2 separate regions of the Homo sapiens genome follow, and region 2 is linked to region 1. Evidence: fine-mapped expression QTL. Tissue or cell type: lung. Region 1 holds a variant in brackets; the other region holds the start of a gene. All regions are shown on one strand. Distances are from middle to middle.

Region 1 (2,676 bases):
TTGCTTGTTTTTGTCAGGTTTGTCAAAGATCAGATAGCTGTAGATGTGTGGTATTATTTCTGAGGGCTCTGTTCTGTTCCATTGGTCTGTGTGTCTGTTTTGCTACCAGTACCATGCTGTTTTGGTTACTGTAGCCTTGTAGTATAGTTTGAAGTCAGGTAGCGTGATGCCTCCAGCTTTGTTCTTTTGGCTTATGATTGACTTGGTGATGTGGGCTCTTTTTTGGTTCCATATGAACTTGAAAGTAGTTTTTTCCAATTCTGTGAAGAAAGTCATTGGTAGCTTGATGGGGATGGCATTGAATCTGTAAATTGCCTTGGGCAATATGGCCATTTTCACGACATTGATTCTTCCTACCCATGAGCATGAAATGTTCTTCCGTTTGTTTGTATCCTCTTTTATTTCATTGAGCAGTGGTTTGTAGTTCTCCTTGAAGAGGTCCTTCACTTCCCTTGTAAGTTGGATTCCTAAGTATTTTATTCCCTTTGAAGCAATTGTGAATGGGAGTTCAGTCATGATTTGGCTCTCTCTTTGTCTGTTATTGGTGTATAAGAATGCTTGTGATTTTTGTATATTGACTTTGTATCCTGAGACTTTGCTGAAGTTGCTTATCAGGTTGAGGAGATTTTGGGCTGAGATGATGGGGTTTTCTAGATATACAATCATGTCATTTGCGAACAGGGACAATTTGACTTCCTCTTTTCCTAATAGAATACCCTTTATTTCCTTCTCCTGCCTGATTGCCCTGGCCAGAACTTCCAACACTATGTGGAATAGGAGTGGTGAGAGAGGGTATCCCTGTCTTGTGCCCGTTTTCAAAGGGAATGCTTCCAGTTTTTGCCCATTCAGTATGATATTGGCTGTGGGTTTGTCATAGATAGCTCTTATTATTTTGAGATATGTCCCATCAATACCTAATTTCTTGAGAGTTTTTAGCATGAAGGGTTGTTGAATTTTGCAAAGACCTTTTCTGCATCTATTGAGAAAATCATGTGGTTTTTGTCTTTGGTTCTGTTTATATGTTGGATTACATTTATTGATTTTCATATGTTGAACCAGGCTTGCATCCCAGGGATGAAGCCCACTTGATCATGTTGGATAAGCTTTTTGATTTGCTGCTGGATTTGGTTCACCAGTATTTTATTGAGGATTTTTTCATTGATGTTCATCAAGGTTATCGGTCTAAATTCTCTTTTTTTGTTGTGTCTCTGCCATGCTTTGGTATTAGGATGATGCAGGCCTCATAAAATGAGTTAGGGAGGATTCCCACTTTTTCTATTGGTCGGAATAGTCTCAGAAGGAATGGTAACAGCTCCTCTTTGTACCTCTGGTAGAATTCGGCTGTGAATCCATCTGGTCCTGGACTTTTCTTGTTTGCTAAGCTATTGATTATTGCCTCAATTTCAGAGCCTGTTATTGGTCTATTCAGAGATTCAACTTCTTCCTGGTTTAGTCTTGGGAGGATGTATGTGTCCAGGAATTTATCCCTTTCTTCTAGGTTTTCTAGTTTATTTGC[G/A]TAGAGATGTTTATAGCATTCTCTGATGTTAGTTTGTATTTCTGTGGGATTGGTAGTGATATCCCCTTTATCGTTTTTTATTGCATCTATTTGATTCTTCTCTCTTTTCTTCTTTATTAGTCTTGCTAGCAATCTATCAATTTTGTTGATCTTTTCAAAAAACCAGCTCCTGGATTCATTGATTTTTTGAAGGGTTTTTTTGTGTCTCTATTTCCTTCCGTTGCACTCTGATCTTAGTTATTTCTTGCCTTCTGCTAGCTTTTGAATGTGTTTGCTCTTGCTTTTCTAGTTCTTTTAATTGTGATGTTAGGGTGTCAATTTTAGATCTTTCCTGCTTTCTCTTGTGGGCATTTATTGCTATAAATTTCCCTCTACACACTGCTTTGAATGTGTCCCAGAGATGCTGGTATGTTGTGTCTTTGTTCTCCTTGGTTTCAAAGAACATCTTTATTTCTGCCTTCATTTCGTTATTTACCCAGTAGTCATTCAGGAACAGGTTGTTCAGTTTCCATGTAGTTGAGCAGTTTTGAGTGAGTTTCTTAATCCTGAGTTCTAGTTTGATTGCACTGTGGTCTGAGAGGCAGTTTGTTATAATTTCTGTTCTTTTGCATTTGTTGAGGAGTGCTTTACTTCTAACTGTGTGGTCAGTTTTGGGGTAGGTGTGATGTGGTGCTGAAAAGAATGTATATTCTGTTGAATTGAGGTGGAGAGTTCTGTAGATGTCTATTAGGTCTGCTTGGTGCAGAGCTGAGTTCAATTCCTGGGTATCCTTCTTAACTTTCTGTCTCGTTGATCTGTCTAATGTTGACAGTGGTGTGTTAAATTCTCCCATTATTATTGTGTGGGAGTCTAAGTCTCTTTGTAGGTCACTAAGGACTTGCTTTATGAATCTGGGTGCTTCTGTATTGGGTGCTTATCTATTTAGGATATTTAGCTCTTCTTGTTGAATTGATCCCTTTACCGTTATGTAATGGCCTTCTTTGTCTCTTTTGATCTTTGTTGGTTCAAAGTCTGTTTTATCAGAGACTAGGATTGAAACACCTGCTTTTTTTTTGTTTTCCATTTGCTTGGTAGATCTTCCTCCATCCCTTTATTTTGAGCCTATGTGTGTCTCTGCACATGAGATGAGTTTCCTGAATACAACATTCTGATGGGTCTTG
Region 2 (2,676 bases), 400 kb after region 1:
AGCAGAGAGGTGAAAACAAGCAGAGTATAAATAAACAATACTAGACTGTAGCTCAAGATCTCCAGGTAACCAATCACTTATATGACAGAGATGAATAGTCCTGCCTGCACAATTCTATAGAGAACGAATGAGCTGCTTAATTTTTTTAATTTAGAACTTTCAACAATTTTTGTGCAAATCATTTTACTTCAGTTTCCTTATGCATAAAATATGAATATTGCCTATATAACTGCATCCGTGAAATAGAATATGTTTAAGTACCCAGGCAGAGTATTTCACATATACTATGCAATAAATATATGGTAGACGCAGCTTTTACTATCCTAGACCAAGTACTACTTTTACTTTAAATCAATTTTAAAAAGAATTGGTTGAATGGTAAGCAGCAGGTTGATCTGGGGCCTGTGAGAGACGGAAGAATAGAGAGAGAGAAAGGGAGAGGGAGAGAGAAAGAGAGAGACTGACTTTCCATAGCTGAGAATCAGTTTGAAATTCACACCTGCTTTACCCCACACACAGTAATTATGCACAAATAGGACAAATGGATAGGAAGGACTATGACGGTACCAAAATAGTCCAACCCATGCCCACAGTAAATGTCCTTGGTAAAAATAAACGTACTACAACACCCAGAAGTCTCCCTTCATCCCCAATAAATGCCTCTCCTAAGTCGCCCTAGTAGAGAATGGAAAGGAAACCACAACCACCGCCACCACTAAGCTTCCTGGATCCTGCTAAAAGACCTGTCCCTCCAGCCTCTTCTGAATTGCATTCTCACCTTTCTCTGTCGGATCAGCTTGGCCAGCTGCATCCCCGAAAGCAGAAGCAATGGTTCAGTCACCGGCCGAGGGGTCTTTGAGGCAAACTTTGGACCCCCTAAGACTAAAGCTGCTCGGCCTACTAAGCCTATGAGAAAGCCTAGCGCCCGCAAGAGGAACAACTGAATGCGGGCGGTAAATGAAGGTGCCATCGCAGCCTGGATTCCGCACGGTCCTAGTGCTTGAGGGTTACGTGCACCCTGGGGAAAGGACGAGAAAAGTACTAAGCAAAGAGGGACTTATGAAGCTTTTCGTTTACAAGTCCAGTGTCTACCCACAATTCCACAGGAGCTTGTTTATCATCACCTGCAGGGCTCCTAGCCAGAGATGGGGGCGGAGACTTCCCAGCAGCTGCCTGTGTGCAATGCTACCTGTCGTTAGTGCTGTTGTAACCCAAGACAGAAAATGCGTCATAAGAAAGAACACTGGCCTTGGAATTCCCCAGTTCTGCTACTGTGTAGCCCTGGCCAACCTACACTATATCTCCTAGTCAGTTTACTCATAAGAAAAAAAATGGGAATAACTACTCCTATATCAAAGGGTTACCATAAACACTAGATAATAAGTAAAAACATTTAGCACAATTTATGGTAAATAGTATAAGTGGTAGTTGTTATAGTTTATTTCAGCTGTGCTTGTGAAAAAAGTGTTGTAAGTATACCTTTGTATGCAAATATTCAGTATGCTCAACAAACAACTAAATGGCAAGTATATATATATTTTCCATATGCATATTATTTAATCCTTATAAGATCACTAACAGGTAGTACTGATGAACATCAAATCTCCAGCCCATCTGTCTCCTAAACTGGACACTTGAAATGCCTTTTTTGACATATCCATGTGAATGTCTTCCAGATCGTTCAAACTCAACAAGTCCAAAACTCATCCTTTTGTCCCCCAGACTGCTGCCCCTACAGGTCTACAAATGGAATTTTCATCCACCCAGTCAGCCATGCCAAAAATCTAGAATCACTTCAGATTCTTCCATTTCTCTTATTCTCATGACAGAATCCAGCCCTTCCTTCTCAACTCAGTCTGGCTCAGATCTCACTGAGGTTTACATGAACTTCTACAAATAATCTAGCTGATCACTCTGCCTTTATTTATAGAGTGTTCTTTCTAATATGTAAATCTGACAATATTACACCCCTGCCAATAACTCCGCAATAATTCTCCATTTTCCACAGATTCAAGACCCATCTACTTTGTCCAGCATTCGACTCTCATGACTGGTGTCTGAAAAACTCTATGCTTCATCCCTAACCCCTTCTATCCCTCACATGCTAAGCTCCTGACAAACAACTATCCGAAAGTTCTCTCTTCCCTCCTTATCTTTGCATCTGCTTTCCCAACCTCTTCATCTAGTTCAGGACAAGTACCACCTCCTCCAGTAAGTCTTCCCTGAACTTACAACTGGGTGTGATGCCACTCTTTTGTAACCCTGCACTCCACAGATTAACAAAATCATAGCACTTACAACCCTCTGTTATGTGTTAGGTTTTTGTGTCTATGCCCCATCTAGATATAAACTCCTCGAAGAACAGGGTCATTCTAATTCCTCTTTGTATTGCCAGAGCCTGACATAGGGCTTGATGAGAAGTCAATACAGGTTTGTAGGCTGAAGGTATGTGATTATGAGATAATGAGCGTTGAAGATAGGGATTCGAGCTTGGCATTTAAGGTCTTGGGTAGGTGAAATGACAACGTCATCCAGGTCACTGTCTTTTCACCTGCAGAACTTAGGTTGATACTGAAAGTGTCATCACAGCACTTCTAGCCTAATTCAAGCACCTGGTAGAAAGCAGGTTAATCATGACAGGCACATCTAGCAGATCCAGTAAAGAAAGCTGATAAA

What was found. PIP is the estimated chance that this variant, and not a neighbour inherited with it, causes the effect.
Region 2: FAAH2 starts here. The variant in region 1 is fine-mapped to the expression of FAAH2 in lung (TOPMed, PIP 0.92).

What each region holds. Positions count from the first base shown.
Region 1 is chrX:57,686,469-57,689,144 of GRCh38, reverse strand. No RefSeq gene overlaps it. Among named protein-coding and RNA genes, the nearest start is that of NLRP2B, 7.5 kb to the right of the region's middle. The variant G/A (reference allele first, on the strand shown) is at 1,517.
Region 2 is chrX:57,285,120-57,287,795 of GRCh38, reverse strand. It overlaps FAAH2 (fatty acid amide hydrolase 2), which reads right to left and starts at 1,090. Exons shown (of 11, transcript NM_174912.4): 1 at 779-1,090. The coding sequence starts at 970.